2 separate regions of the Homo sapiens genome follow, and region 2 is linked to region 1. Evidence: fine-mapped expression QTL. A gene starts in region 1. The other region holds a variant in brackets. All regions are shown on one strand. Distances are from middle to middle.

Region 1 (8,330 bases):
TCCACGTCCCGGGTTCAAGCGATTCTCCTGCATCAGCTGCCTGAGTAGCTGGGATTACAGGTGTGCGCGTGGCGCCCGGCTAATTTTTTTTTTTGTATTTTTAGTAGAGATGGGATTTCAGCAAGTTGGTCAGGCTGGTCTCAAACTCCTGACCTGGTGATCTGCCCCCCCTCAGCCTCCCAAAGTGCTGGGATTACAGGGGTGAGCCACTGCGCCCAGCCTTTTTTTCGAGACAGAGTTTCGCTCTGTCACCCAGGCTGGAGTGCAGTGGCGCAATCTCGGCTCACTGCAACCTCTACTTCCCGGGTTCAAGCGATTCTCCTGCCTCAGCCTCCCAAGTAGCTGGGATTATAGGTGCCTGCCACCACACCCAGCTAATTTTTTGTATTTTTAGTAGAGATGGGGTTTTGCCATGTTGGCCAGGCTGGTCTCGAACTCATGGCCTCAAGTGATCTGCCCACCTCGGCCTCCCAAAGTGCTGGGATTACAGGCATGAGCCACTGTAAAGAATTTTTTTTAACATCTTTTTCTTTTTTTCTTTTTGAGAGGGAGTCTTGCTCTGTTGCCCAGGATGGAGTGCAGTGGCGCGATCTCGGCTCACTGCAACCTCTGCCTCCCAGGTTCAAGAGATTCTCCTGCCTCAGCCTCCCAAGTAGCTAGGATTATAGGCGCCTGCCACCACACCCGGCTAATTTTTTGTATTTTTAGTAGAGACAGGTTTTCACCATGTTGGCCAAGCTGGTCTCGAACTCCTGACCTCAGGTGATCCGCCCACCTTGGCCTCCCAAAGTGCTGAGATTACAGGTGTGAGCGACCACGCCTGGCCTTTAACATCCTTTTATTGTAACACTTATCTCATTGTTTTGAAATGGCTTATACCTATTAGTGTCTCCAATAGACAGTCTTATTCATATTCTTAGCACTAGCAACTATACAAGTTCTGTACACCTGTTTTTTTTTCAATATGATGAAGTCAACACTTGCATTTAACCAAACCTTGATTTCCAAGGATTGAGTAATGTGAGATTTTCAGTGCAGTGGTGGGAGAGGCTTGGAGTCTGAGCACAGGCTTTGGAGTCCCTCCAATCATATATCATCTTTGCCCTTGCACTAAATGGTATCCCCATCCTCTCAATTGCTTAAGGAAACAACCTGGGAGTCATCTCGTTTACTACCTTTCTTCACACCTGCACCTCGGGAAAATATCCTGAAATCTTTCAATTTCTATTTCCACACCAACCAGCCTAGTCCAGGTACCACCATCTACCCCCTGAACTTGCCCAATAACTTTGTATTGTTCTTCGGCTCCTTTTTGTTCCATTGCTGCTCCCTTCAAGTCATTCTCTATAAAATAGGTTGATTTAAAAAAAAAAATAAACCAATGGCCGGGCACGTGGCTCATGCCTGTAATCCCAGCAGTTTGGGAGGCTGAGGCGGGAGGATCACTTGAGCCCAGGAGTTCAGGACCAGCCTGGGCAACACAGCGAAACCCTGTCTCTACAAAAAATACAAAAATTAGTCTGGTGTGGTGACGCCCACCTGTAGTCCCAGGTACTAGGGAGGCTGAGGTGGGAAGATGACTTAGCGAGCCTGGGGAGGTAGAGGATGCAGTGAGCCCTGATTGCACCACTGCACTCCAGCCTGGGCGACAGAGTGAGACCCCATCTCAAAACAACAAAAACCCAAACCCTTCATTATCTTGCCTTTGCACTTAACAGATAAATCCAAACAACGTGATTAGGTTCCTGCTTAATGCTCCAAACTCAACTTCAAACCCCTATTTGACATGCTCAAGCCTCCTGGCCTGTTCCTCAAACAGCCACGCTTCAGCATCAGCCACAGTTCAGCATCGGGGCCTTGACACCCATTATCCTCTGTCTAGAATGTTCTTCCTCCCCATGGTTGGCTTGGCTGGCTCCTTCTTGTCATTTAGGTCTTAGCTCCTGAATTATCTCCTCAGAAAATCCTTCCCTGACCATTCTGTTTTGTTTTCTGCTCAGTACTTATCACTGCCAGTGATTATCTCATCTATTCGTTTTATTATTTATATTCTTCATTAGAAACATAAGCTTTTGTTGTTTGAGACAGAGTCCCACTGTGTTGACCAGGCTGCAGTGCAGTGGCATGATTTTTTGGCTCACTGCATCCTCCGTCCCTCACCCCCCATCCCCCACCACAAGCAATCCTCTTATCTCAGCCTCCCGAGTAGCTGGGACCATAGGGGCCTGCCACAATTCCCAGCAAATTTTGTTGTCATTGTTGTTGTTGTTGTTGTTGTTTTTAAATTCTGTAGAGAGGGAGTCTCACTATGTTGCTCAGGCTGGTCTTGGACTCCTGGCCTCAAAGTGATCCTCCTGCCTCAGCCTCCCAAAGTGCTGGGATTATAGGCTTGAGCCACCTGTTTGTTTCCTTTCATACCTAGTCCTGCAGAACATAAGCCTCTAAGTGCAGGGGCTTCTTCTGTTTATTCACCACTGTATTTCTAGCACCAAGAATACTATCAATATTTTTTGAATGAATGAATCAAACAGTGAAAAGGCCAGTCATCTTGGTGTATATAGAAGGTAGCCAACAGAGACCCAATAGAAATGAGTGCCTATGTTCCTACTGCTCTATAACTAGTGGGAGTGGGGAGGGGAAGCAGCTGGGGGTCTACCAGACCCTGTCACCAACTAGTCAGCACACGTGGCAATCACAGTTGTAGAAGAGGCCAAACGGAGCAGATCTGCCAATGACAGCCAGTACTAAACTCGACTGGATGCTGAGGGCCATTTCTGCTTTGAGTGAACAGTGCAGCCTGCTGGGTGGCCAAGGGAACGTGTACAAATCCACTTTGTTTAAAGGACCCAGAGAGTAGTCAGTTCTGCTAAACCTCATCTGTTTGTTCAGGGATTTTTGTCCTGGGGAGGAGTGGGGAAGAAGCGATTAGTCAGGCCAGGCTAGCTGGTATTAGTTTGCAGGCTGTGAGTGCGACTCTTCAGTCTCTGCTCCTCTCATCATTGCCTTTTCACCTACCTTTACCCTAAATTTACGTACACCTCTGCCTTCACAAATTCCAAGCGATTAACTGTTGTATTTAATCTCTGTCCCAAATCTCTCTGCATCATTCTTCTTTTGATTATGAAGTCACGAGGGCCCTTTGTTTATTTTATTTTTAAAACTTTTTTTGAGAAGGAGTTTAGCTCTTATTGCCCAGGCTGGAGTGCAATGGCACAATCTAGGCTCACTGCAACCTCTGGCTTCCGGGTTCAAGCAATCCTCCTGCCTCAGCCTCCCGAATAGCTGGGATTACAGGCGCGCGCCACCAAGCCCGGCTAATTTTTTGTATTTAGTAGAGACGGGGTTTCACCATGTTGGTCAGGCTGGTCTCGATCCTAACCTCAGGTGACCCAGCCACCTCGGTCTCCCAAAGTGTTGGGATTACAGGCGTGAGCCACCGCACCTGGCCTCAAGGGCCCTTAAATATTACTTAGTTGTTCCATTATTTGGTGTGTTTTATTATTTGGTGCAGGTTTTTTCCCCTTATCTAGTTTGAATGTTGCTGAAGGACGCTGGTTTTCAAACGGTAAGGAATCTCCTGATAAAGGCACGAATCTTGGTGTGCAGATAAGCCAGCGATTCTTGCTTCTGGCTAGTTCTACGTTGTTCCTGGATGGTCAGTTCAAACTGCAATGATCCACAGCTCCAGAAGCGGCTTCTTCCAGTCGGCCTAGGAGCCAAACGCCCCTGCAGCTCCATGCTACCACGCAGGGTGCCGTTTCGGGCTTGCAGGGAGTTGTCGCAGTCCCGTTTTGGCTGCACATTCTACTGCTGGGGTGGAAGTGTCAAGCAAGATGTTGTCGCCGGTATCATGATGTCCGGGTGAGAAGCTTCCTTGGCAGGTTGCCAGGGCCAGCCTGCGAGCACTGGCGCCGGGGACCCGCGCGCCCGGGAAGGGGCGGGGAGGTGGGCGGAGCCTGGCAACCTGGGGACCACCAATAGGATGCTCAGCCGGAGGTGGCCCTGCGCGTGACGCAGCGGTGCTCGGAGGCAGGGGGCGTAGGGGCCGGGCTGTCCGGCGCTTTAGCTTAGCAGGCGACGTTGCGGGCCCTGGGCGCCAGGAGAGCTTCCCGGAGTCGACCTTCCTGCTGGCTGCTCTGTGACCGCTTCCCGGCTCTGCCCTCTTGGCCGAAGTGCCCGCTGCCGGGCGCGGGCCTCAGGTAACGGTGGTGCTCCCGCGCCTCTCCTCGCTTCCCGCTTGGGTCCACCGGCCTCAGCCCGCGGGGAAGGGAGAAGCGGTGGCGGCAGCAGCTCCGGCCCGGCCTTGTCCTGGGCTGTGCTGCGGAGAAGGCGAGGCTCGGCGACTGCAGGGGAGTTGGGGAGGGGAGGGCGGGAAAGTTACCGTCAGGCGCCCGGGTCACGGGCAGCCTTTTAAACCCTGCACGCTGGTTTGGTGTTCCGCAAATCTCGTGGCATCTCTCAAGTCAGTAGTAAAGAAAGTTAGGAATTAGAAGACGTTTTATTCTTTAAAAAGCGAAACCAAAAATGCACTCAGGAAGTCAGCTTTTTAATGATTTAGAGAAAATGTGTGAAGGGAAGGATGGTATTAGCAAGACATGAAAATCTGTAGGGGCACCAGAACCTTTAATCAAGCTCATGTTTTATTGTAAAATATTAGGATGTAGGTAAGTTTCTGTTTTCCCTAAGTGTTAATGGTCATGTAATTTAAATAATATGTATATTGAAAGGTTATTTCTAAGTGAGAAACAACTATATAAACTTTATTCTCCGTATATATATTTAGGTTAAGTTCGTTGGTCACTTTTGTTTGTTTGAGACGGAGTCTCGCTGTGTCGCAAGGCTGGAGTGCAGTGGCGCAATCTCGGCTCACTGCAACCTCTGCCTCCCGGGTTCAAGCGATTCTTGTGCCTCAGCCTCCTGAGTAGCTGGGATTACAGGCGTGCGCCACCACGCCCAGGTAATTTTTGTAGTTTTAGTAGAGACGGGGTTTCACCATGTTGGACCAGGTTGGTCTCAAACTCCTGACCTCAAGTGATCCGCCCGCTTCGGCCTCCCAAAGTGCTGGGATTACAGGCGTGAGCCACCGCGCCTGGCCTGTTGGTCACTTTTTAATATTTAAGTGGCTGCCACCTGTTTAAACCACTTTTTTCTTTTTTTCAGCCTGCTTGATTTCCTCTTCCTTGAAGTAGAATTCAATTTGAAGCTTTTTTTTTTTCTTTTTAAAAGTTGGGCGGTGTCAGTGAATGACTTGTTAAGGAAGTCTGTGCGTTGTCTGGGTGTGAGAATGGGTTTTGGAAGGAGCTCTGTGGCACTGAATTATCGTTTAGAAATGCACGTGTTTTAGTGAATCACATGCTTAGAATGCATCTGAGGTTTCGCAGTCTTTTAGGATAAAGACCTACTGAGTGAGCACACTCTATCTCTGGTTCATTTGGCCCACTTTCCTTCTGGCTTTCCAGGTTCATGCCACACTGGCTTTATTTTTGTTACTGGAAAGCTTCATTTTCTTTCCTCTCTTGGCTTTTAGGAGTTTCCTCCACCTCTAATGCTGTATTCTCTCCCTCCCTCCAACTCTTATACCTGCCTCAGATATCAGCCCACATATCACTTCCTCTGGAAATCACCCCATCCCCATTAAGCCCTCCATGAACTCTTTATTCTCCTTAGCAGAAGTTGATCATTAATTGTAATGAATTAGTTGCTTTGTTTCCTCTGCTAGTGCATTTCATGAAGGCTGGTTTAGCCTGTTGTAATTTTCAGGGTCTGGTCCAGCACTTGGCCCAGAGAAAGAATGAATAAGTTGGTGGACAGAGGAAGGAACTTTTGAATGAGAAATACAGTGATCCCCACTTAACTGCTTTCTGTAGTTTCAGCTACCTGAGGTGCGAAACAGAGTACAATAAGACATTTCGAGAGATACCATGTTCAAGTGAATTTTAATACAGTATATTGTTAATCTCTTACTGTGCCTAACTTTTTGAAACTTTGCCTCCCAGGTTCAAGGGATATTCATGCCCCAGCCTCCCAAGTAGCTGGGATTACAGGCGTGTCCCAGTACGCCCGGCTAATTTTTTTTTTTTTTTTTGAGATGGAGTTTGGCGCTTGTTGCCCAGGCTGGAATGGCACGATCTCGGCTCCCCGCAACCTCCGCCTCCCGGGTTCAAGCGATTCTCCGCCTCAGCCTCCCAAGTAGCTGGGATTACGGGCATGTGCTACCACGCCCGGCTAATTTTTTTTTTTTTTTTTTTTTTTTTTTTTTTTTTTAGTAAAGACTGATCAGATCTTACTGGTCAGGCTGGTCTCGAACTTCCAACCTCAGGTGATCCACCCGCCTCAGCCTCCCAAAGTGCTGGGATTACAGGCGTGAGCCACCGCGCCCAGCTCACCCGGCTAATTTTTGTATTTTTAGTAGAGACAGGGAGGGTTTCACTGTGTTGGCCAGACTGGTCTCAAACTCCTGATCTCAGATGATCGGTCTGCCTCGGCCTCCCAAAGAGGTGGGATTACAGGCGTGAGCCACTGTGCCCAGCCTGTAAATGAAACTTTATAATAGGTATGTATAGGAAAAAACAACGTGTATTGGGTTCACTGTTATTCACAGTTCTAGGCATCCACTGGGAGTCTTGGACCGTATCCCCCATGGATATGGGAGAACTACTGTATTAACCAGGGAAGAGTCCCTTTTTCCTATGGGAAAAAGTTTTTAACAAAGACCAGCCAAGTTCTATTTTTCTAAGAGGATGGCTTTGTTTTGCATTTTTTTTGCCACATTGGTTAATAAGAGATTATACTAACCATACAGATGTAAATGAGAATTTGTTCTTGTTCTTTAGTTTTGCTAATTACTTAAAGACCTAGTTCTGTGATATGTAAAAGTTGTAGCGTTGTGTTAGGGCCAACCTTTGGGTGCCAGAGGGAAATTTTTTTTGCTCTGGATTGTAAATTCTATCCACAGTTGTGTCCCCTTTCCACCACTGAATCTAAGGGTGATGTGGCAAAGTTCTTTACCTGGAGTAGGCACTCAGTATTTGTGATACAGATTTATGGGCTCTTTTGAAAGCTGTATTAATGGGAACACGGAGGCAGGCTAAAGTTGACATGTCTTTCCAAGTTCATTTGTTTCTCAAATCATTTCTTTTTGTTTTGCTTTCTTAAGATAAGTTAGATGCTTATCACACTGAACATTATGTAATTGCGTGCACAGATTAGATTCTTAAGAAATTCTTTTTCAATCAGTGTGTTGTATAAATAGCTGTCTACTTAGCTTTGTTACCTGGGGGGGAATAGCTTTATGTTACCTGTGACTTTGAACAAGTTTGTTAGCATTTCTGAATCTCCTGCATCTTTAAAAATGGACATGTTAAATGAGATATGTGCTACACCTACTGCACTCAGCACTTTGTTACCTGCTTCCTAAACGCTAGAGATTCCTTCACTGCTAGACCTCTTGAGAGACTAGTCTTATGATCACTGTTTTCACTTCCTCAACTTACTGGCGGTGTACTCCAATATATTTATTTGTCCTTCCTCCTAAAACTGTGCATGTAATCAAATCATAGCTATTAATGTCCCCCAATTGTGAAATATCCCATGTCCTGTCCTTTTCTTTTCTTTTTTGAGACGGAGTCCAGCTCTGTCACCCAGGCTGGAGTGCAGTGGCGCGATCTCGGCTCACTGCAACCTCCGCCTCCTGGGTTCAAGCAATTCTCTGCTTCGGCCTCCCGAGTAGCTGGGATTACAGGCACCTGCCATCACCCCTGGCTAATTTTTTGTATTTTTAGTAGAGACGGGGTTTCATCATCTTGGCCAGGCCAGTCTAGAATTCCTGACCTTGTGATCCACCCGCCTCAGCCTCCCAAAGTGCTGGGATTACAGGCGTGAGCCGGTGCGCTTGTTTAAGAAACAGTGGAAGGCCAAAGTAATGAGTAGAGAAAATGAGACAGCCAAGATCATGCCACTGCACTTCAACCTGGGCGACATGGCATGACTCCGTCTCAAAAAAAAAAAAAAAATGCCGGGCGCGGTGGCTCACACCTGTAATCCCAGCACTTTGGGAGGCCGAGGCAGGCGGATCACCTGAGGTTGGGAGTTCGACACCCCATCTCTACTAAAAATACAAAATTAGCTGGGTGTGGTGGCCTGTAACCCCAGCTGCTCCAGAGGCTGAGGCAGGAGAATCGCTTGAATCCAGGAGGCGGAGGTTGCGGTGAGCTGAGATCGTGCCATTGCACTCCAGTCTGACCAACAAGAGTGAAACTCTGTCTCAAAAAAAAAAAAAGATTGATGGTGTTTAAGGGGGTGGTGGTGAGTGGCAGGCAATGCAGAAGTTA
Region 2 (8,330 bases), 280 kb after region 1:
CCGGAGCTGTTCCTATTTGGCCATCTTCTGTCCGGTTTGTTTTAAGTGATTCCAAGCACATGTCCAGAGGCTTATCTTCCATGAAATAACTTCCCCATTCATTACAAGCCTTAATGTCTGAAGTTCCATCATTTTAACACCTCCATTAAGGTGTTGATCTCAATAGTCTTTGAAAATTAACTTTATGGGGTAATATTCACCTACTAATATGTATAAAAAAGTGATAAGGAACTGGGGTTCAGAACATCCAAGATGCTTGGGTGATAAATGAAACAATATCAAGGAGAGTCAGTCTCAAGAACACAAGCTTCTTGGGGTCTTGTCTTATTTACAGTATGCCCCCAGGGCTTAGAATAGTGCCTGGCACCATACATGTGCTCAATAAATATTAGTTGAGTGTGAGAAGAAAGGAGGAATGAAAATGATTTAAATGTAAGAGTTATGAAAATTTCAAGAATTTTAACCTCCAGGTACTAGAAAACTTACTAAAGCAATATTATTTGCCAGTTTAAAAAGATCGTAGAGGACTAGAAGGTGACTAAAAATTAGGAAATGGTAGTCTACTTTCCTTCCTTTCTTCCTTCCTTCTTTCCTTCCTTCCTTCCCTTCCTCCCTCCTTCCCTCCCTCCTTCCCTTCTTTCTTTCTTTCTTTTCTTTCATCTTTCCTTCTTTTTTTCTCTCTTTTGAGACTGGGTCTTGCTCTCTCCAGGCTGGAGTGCAGTGATGCAATCATGGCTTTCTGCATCCTCGGCCTCCTGGGCTCAAGCAGTCCCCCCACCTTAGCCTCTCAAGTAGCTGGGACTACAGGTGCATGCCACCTTACCTGGCTAATTTATTTTTTTGCAGAGATGGGGTCTCGCTATTTTGCCCAGGCTGGTCTCAAACTCCAAGCCTCAAGTGATCCTCTCACCTCAGCCTCCCTAAGTGCTGGGATTATAGGTATGAGCTATGGCACCTGGCCTAAAATCTTATTTTTAAGAGATGGGGACAAAGGGGATAACTAATTAGTAGGCCTGAAAATTTGATTTTCATGCCCCAGAAAGGTCACCACCAAATTGATGTGCAGATCACTTGAAGAAGAGGACAGAGATGCAAGCTGCACCAGCACAAAAACAAAATCAGCACTGAATACCATAGTATGGCAGTTTCTAAAGGCCATCCTACGAAATACTAATCCCACGGAGTGCTCCACCAAAGAAGAACTTCCTGGGCAAATGAGTTTAGAGAATACTAGGCACTACATCCCATTCCTGGAGTTCCCAGTGCTCTTCAGGACATTGAAGCTATGAGAATCTCGCAAAGCATTCTTAGCTTTGTTTACACACATTTGACCAGGTAATATTTTCTCTAAGGAACGCTCATTGATATTCTATGGAACTTATTTCTCATGGAACCTACTCTGGGAAATGCTGCTCTACCAACATATTAATTTTTATAATATTCTCTTTCAAGGACAATGACTAACAGTATCATTGCCAGTTTTAATTAGTTCATAAATATGTTTCAGTTACCAGTGGTAGCCATGGCAAGTAAAAATAAATAAATGCATATACAAAATTACATTTTATAAATGAAGAAAGGCCTCAAAAATTCCTTCATACAGTAGCGAGAGATATGCGTAGAAAACTAATTTATATCCTCAAACCTAACGTGAAGATTTACCCCCAAAATATTATTCTGTTAGAATAAGTTGCTTGAATATCCAACTTGTTTGGTTTAAGTGAATAGTGAAACATTAATTATTCAAGCAGGAAAACCTTTAAACATTGTCTGAGAGTCCCCAACATTTTGGTGAGGTGAAGCGCCTTTTCATTTCTCCCGTCTTAAGTAGCCTGCCTTTGGGAGTGTGGTGCTAGGTGAAAAAGAGGAGGGGATGTTACTCTCTGTTCCCCGTGAGCTTCAGAAACCTCCCACACAAGGGCTCAGCAAAGGTCACTTCATCCTTAGTGGGACTGCTCGCCCATTGCTTGAGGTCTCCTGCTTTTGTTACTCTGTAGCTGTAGGGACTGAGGCCCAAAAAGGTGCCCAAGGCCACAGCTATAGGACCATGACCAGAAATGAGGGGCAGCAGCAAGCAAGGGTGAGCATTTCAATCAGACTGTCTTACTCTGGGATTTTGGCTTCTCTACTTCCCAGCTACACGACTTGGGCATGTTACTTAATTTCTCAGAGCATGTTTCCTCATCTGTGATAAGAGGATGGTGAGAGATTAAATAACTCAGTAAAACACCCAGTGTGTGCCTGGCATATAGTAGGGGTTTCATAAATGGTGGCTTCCTTACTTGTCTACCCTACCAGTGTGATCTGCTGCCTCACAGTTACAAGCCCTCTAACCTCAGCATTGAACCCAGCAACCATTTACTGAACAGAGGTTTCTGACTGATGAAAGGGTATCATCAACTGGGCAAAACAGTATTAACGTGACCCATTTAAATTATACCCCAACTGCAGAAATCTTCCTTAAATGGTAGCTTTCAGTGATCCAGCATGTACTGCTTTGCTGGTAACTAGGAAATGTTAAAACTTCAGAGCCAGCAGGAAGCAATATAACACACTATTCCTTATTTAATTTCTTTTAACACCTGTCATCCCACTAAAGTGGTAATCATTTTTTTCTTCCACTCATTATAAAAAAGACTGGAGGTAGACAAAATTTTCCCAAGAGTTGTTTCTCCTGCAGAAGCAAAAGAGACACCTTTCTTTGCATTCCCTCCTTTGATCTAATTTTCCTCTCTCTTAGCTTGCAGCTGGAATTGAGTAAGTTTTTGTTCCAGACTTTGTGCAAAGTGCTTTGGATGCCTTTTCTCATTGTATCCTTACCACTACCCTCTGAGGCAGGTACTGTTATAGGAGAGATGGTTAAGGTCCTTCCTATGATCACATGGCTAGCAAGTGGTTGAGCTGTGATTTAAACTCAGGTGTGGCTCTTCCTCACTTGGCTCTGCTGCGACTGCTTTTCAGAAAGAATGATCATCTTCCCAGAAGTTTAAAATGCTTTTAGGTAAGACCGAGGGGTGGGGACGCTGGAAGAAGAATAAGCCTACAGCCTACAGCCACCAGCTCGTGCATGTCTTTACTTAAATTAGGTGCCCGTATGCCCCTCCATGGCCACAAAAACCAAGTCCATGGCTCCTTTGCCAAGTTGCTTCGTCCCCAACCTGTACCACACTCGCTCCCCAGTCCCATCCAAGGCTGGCCCCGAGACCAGTATATAGTGATATTTGTATTTCTTCTGATGTTCTTTGCTCACCATAGCAGGTTGCTGGGTTCCTAACTTACGCCCTTCCGTTCCTGGGAACCTGAGCATCCAGCAATCTGCTCTGGCTTCAGTGGGTCTCGTGGGGATGACCCTTTCCACCTTATCTGACGCCCCTTAGTTACCACCTGGAAAAGTAGCAGATAGTGGTGCTGAATCCGTACCTTCCTCGGGCCGCTCGCTCTCCAACAGCGCCACCACCTCGGTGCCCTCCTCGCCGGAGCCTCGGACCTCATCCACGTCCACCACCGTGGCGGCGGGCGCTCGGGGCTCCCCCGGGGTCCCCGCCCGTCCGGAGCCCGACGGCTCGGGCCCAGCCTCCTGGCGCCCGCGGCCTCCGCCGCTCCTCTCGGCCTTTGCCCTCTTGTTCTCCTTGTGCGGAGTCCTGCCGCCTCGCCCGCGGGACTCCCTGGAGGAGCTCCGCGCCCTCCTCTCCATCCTCAGAGCTGCCGGGCGGCTGGAGCAGCAGCGCGGGAGCGCTAGGGGCACGGGAGCGCAGTCCCTGTGGAGTCGCTGCGGGTCCGCGTGGCGTGCCCGGGGGACCCTAAAGACCGTCGGGTGGGGGCTGAGGGCGAGGGGCGGGACACCGGGGCCGCGGGCGGGGCGCACCCGGAACCCCGAC[A/G]GCTGTGTCTTGGTGGAGCTGTGGACTGCGCCCGCCGACTCCCACGGCCGGGGCGGCGCTGAAGCAGAGAGAGGCCTGGGTGGGAGAGCCGGCCCCGGGCAGGGTGCGGGCGTTGAAAAGTGCGTGTCTGCAGGTGCCAACCCGGGCTGTGAAGACTCATCTCCTGGAGGGTTCCTAATGTCATGCTAGAGGGCTGACGGAGATACAGAAGCTCATCGCAAGCTCTGGTTTCTCTTCAAAACGAATACATCTTTTACCTTTTACTGCAGATTTTCGTGGAGAGGAACAGTTGTTAGTAACCTTTTTTGTCTGTTTGTTTTTAGGTCCTGCTTGGGCAGGGCCAAGTAAAAAAGAAAAAAGAAAAAAGAAAAAAACCACAAAAGGTCATCGAATTAGGGTCACTTTAAGGTAAAATCAGAAATTTCGCCTCATCCCCAACTTTCCTTCTTGGAGTCGTCTCAAGGATGCCTTTCTCTCCTCCCTACGTATTTCTTATTTTATATCCTGGCCCTAGTTATTCTACATATGCATTAACCCCTAATGATGTTGGCTGATTCCTCCTGGGAGTATTTACATTTTAAAGGGGATAAAAGAAAACTCTCTTTGCGATGTGTTTCGTCTCTGTTATTATTTAGGGTCTTTATTAATGCTTATGCCTGATGTTGATGATGCAATGCTTCTTGAAGAATCATAGGCAGGAAGGGGTCTGGTCTAACTTCTGTTTTTAGGAAGAGACACTTTGTCCCGTGCTTCCATGATGAAAGCAGGAGTTGGGCTTTTTCAGGGTTCATTGGCCAGGCTGGATCTAGCAACGATCTGGGGAGCTGCCTCACCCTCTTCTGAGGGACTTGAAACATTGAATAGGTTTATTTCTCTTTCACTTTCTGTTAATAATTTGTTTCTTACTGAAAGGGAGGTTGGTCAAGGTAACCCATCACCCAAGATTTATGATACTACTCAGATAGTTCAGATCACATGATGGCAGAAATAATGCTCACTGATTTTTTAAATTTTTTAAATATTTATTGAATTCACACAGCAATAGCTTTTTTTCTCTCCCAAAACCTTATTAAACACTGAGGACCTGAAGTAACTGAAGTGCGTCTGGAAAAACCATTCCACTACTTTCTTCTATATGTTCCAGGTTAGGCCACTGGGAGTAAAGTAAATAAAAGATGAGCAATCCAGTCACTTAAATAGATTTTTTACTGTCTAAACCTGATCATTGCATGGGCTAAGGAGGATAAATATTTCCTCGCAAGGGCCTGCCTCAGTTGATAGTTTCTGCCTACAACACTACAGTGAGAAAAATTCCAAAGCTGCGTTTGGCTCAAAGAGAGAAAGATATCATGATTATTTCATATTCCCCCAAATTAACATTTGCTATTAAACACAGCTAGCATCTTTATCATCCTTTAGAGATTTCCCTGTTAGAAAAAGTGACAAACTATTTGTAGCATTTATTGGTGTTTTTCCTCAGCCTGGTCCTGTTATAAATTAATTTCATCCGCATCCCTAGCTAGACTCTTATACTAAAATTGCACCTGTTTTTCATTCCAAGAATGGAGCAGGATATCTGGTCAAATGATATTCCCCAAACTGTACTGTCTTTCAATAAGAGAGAAATTCCTTGTAGGAGAAAAATCAATGAGAAAAGGCCCTACTGGGTGTTGGAGCCCATGCTGAGCACTTGTTCTCAGTCACCTTTGCTCAGTTTCCTTGGCTTCTTTGACCACTGACAAGTTACATTTCTATATCTATACATAACAGCAATATAAGCAGCTGCTTATAACACAAGTCTGCTGGGATTATGAGTGACAATGACAAAATCAGAGAAGCTGCATACCATTCCATGATAAAAAGGTCAATGCAGCATGGCTGGAAGGTGGAGGAGTTGGGGAAGGGAGTGCTGAGTTAGCAGCTAAGTCCAGCTGGCTGTCCTCATCTACTTTTACAAGGATGCTGCTGTTTTCTTTTAGATTCCTTTTTAATTGAAAGTGTTGCTCATCCCTTTGCTGAAAATATGATATGCACACATTCTGAAACTCTCAATACTTTACTCCTTGTTTGGATTTGTTAAGAAACTGACATCTGTGGGAACTGGGTTACTAGAAGAAAGGGAGGATCAATTAAAGCTGTTTACTTTTATGTTTCCAAGGTGAAAGATTATGAAAGAGTGCAAGGCTTTCTAAAGTATTACACTTATTCCCAGTTAGTGTTTTGAAGTATTATATCCATATGAATAAGTGAATGCATGAATACTGATTCATTTGGATTATTTAATGGAAAGGCTGGAATTGATTGGCACTACATGATGTTACAAATCCTGTTGTTTTAGAGCTGGAAACTATAAGGACTTACTAAATTTGACTTTCTCAATTTGTAGGTGGCAGAGAGACTAAATAGGAGGGCACAATAGTGGTCTAGGAAAGTGATGCAACTGAGAGCCTGATCTGCAGCTTTGGCAGTGGGTATGGCTTGGATTCAGGAAATATTTCTGAGGGAGAAAATCAAAATAATGTGGTAGTCTCATGGGATTATGGAGTGGGGACCATGAAGGGATAGAAGACTTGAGAAAGATGGAGAGTTCAACCTTAATAGGCTTAGCAGCTGATCGGAAGTTGCAGCTGCTTTGGTTGATCCACATCCCCTAACTGTTTTGACCCCAAGCATCTTATGTTCCTACCCTCTTTGCTTTGAAATGCAGGTGTTGGCCTGTTAGGTGCAGGGACAAGATGAGACTTAACTTAACTTCTATCTAATCAATTCACTCCATAGATACTTAGTGAGCACCTACTACATGTATTGCACTGCTCACCACTGAGGATTTAAAGGTAAGACATGGTGCATGCCCTTGAGGAGCGTATAGTATAACAGGGAGAGACAGATGTGTAAACAGACAAGTGTGATAAAGTGTTGTACCTCCAGGTTTTTCAACCTCAGCACTACTGACATTTTGGACTGGATGATTCTTTGTTGTGGAGGGCTGTCTTGTACATTGTAACAGCATCATTAGCATCGCAGCATCGTTAGCAAAATCCCTGGCCTCTACCAGATGCCTGTAGCACTTCATCCCTAGTTGTGGTGACCAAAATTATCTTCAGATATTGCCAAGTGTTTTCCCCATGGCATCAAACAAAATTGCTCCTGGTTGAGAATCACTGATCTATATGGTACTGTGAGAACACAAAGAAGGGAGTGAGTAACATTACCTGAGTGGAGTCAGAGGGGATCCAGTTTGGGCCATACTGGGATGAGTAGGTGATCCTCAGGCGGACTTTGAGAGCTGGGCCTTCCAGCCAGAGGAAACAGTACAAAAGATAGCAGGTCAATCAGTGGTTTGACAAACTGTCAAAAGAGGAGGCCGGAGAGGTAGGCAGCCCAAGAAATGAAAAGCCTTTTATACCATATAAGAGAACTTATATTTTATCTTATTGACAAAAGAAGCTATTGAAACATTGTAAGGAAGGAAAATGGTAAGATTTGCAATTGAGAAGAGTCACTTTATGGACAAGGTGGAAGGTGAATTGAAATGGGAAGAGGATGGGCCTGGCGCGGTGGCTCACGCCTGTAATTCCAGCACTTTGGGAGGCCAAGGTGGGCAGATCACGAGATCAGGAGATCGAGACCATCCTGGCTAACACGGTGAAACCCCATCTCTACTAAAAATAAAAAAATAAAAAAATTAGCCGGGCGTGGTAGCAGGCACCTGTAGTTCCAGCTACTCGGGATGCTGAGGCAGGAGAATGGTGTGAATCTGGGAGGTGGAGCTTGCAGTGAGCTAAGATCACACCACTGCACTCCAGCCTGGGCGACAGAGCGAGACTCTGTCTCAAAAAAAAAAAAAAAAAAAAGAAAAGAAAAAGAAATGGGAAGAGGATGGAGGCAGAGAGACCAGTGAGGAGACTCTTGCAACAGTCCAGGTGAGAGGGAGGATATGAGTTACGTTTACAGGGAAAAGTGATGACTCCCAGGACTCTAATCAAAGTGACTGGTGAATGGGGCTGACATCCAACTGAGGGAATACAAAAAAGGAAACAGATTTTGTGTAAAGGTGGGTGGGCCAAGTTCAGCTTCAGAGGTATTGAGCTAGAAGTGTCTGCAGGTTATCTGTCTAGAAATGTACAGTGGACAATGAAATATTTAGGTTTAAAGTTCAGGAGGGATTATGTTTCTGAAGCCAAGATCCTGACTCTTTCACTAGCTGCTGACTCTGGCTCCAGCATCCTGTGCTGGATTTTCAAAAGAAAAACATGGAAGAGGAAACAGCACATGGCGAAGTGATCCTGGCCAGCGATGGTTTCGATATACTTTATCATCTTTCTGGGTTTTTTCCACTAAAGATACATTTCTGGGCTGGGCGCAGTGGCTCACGCCTGTAATCCCAGCACTTTGGGAGGCTGAAGTGGGTGGATCACGAGGTCAGGAGTTCAAGACCAGCCTGGCCAAGAT

The links. PIP is the estimated chance that this variant, and not a neighbour inherited with it, causes the effect.
Region 2: its variant is fine-mapped to the expression of SOAT1 in whole blood (TOPMed, PIP 0.91).

The regions. Positions count from the first base shown.
Region 1 is chr1:179,289,738-179,298,067 of GRCh38, forward strand. It overlaps SOAT1 (sterol O-acyltransferase 1), which reads left to right and starts at 4,060. Exons shown (of 16, transcript NM_003101.6): 1 at 4,060-4,199. RefSeq lists a silencer at 3,855-4,044 and an enhancer at 4,257-4,764.
Region 2 is chr1:179,572,171-179,580,500 of GRCh38, forward strand. It overlaps NPHS2 (NPHS2 stomatin family member, podocin), which reads right to left and starts at 3,778. Exons shown (of 8, transcript NM_014625.4): 1 at 3,421-3,778. The coding sequence starts at 3,694. It also overlaps the pseudogene RNU5F-2P. The variant A/G (reference allele first, on the strand shown) is at 3,879.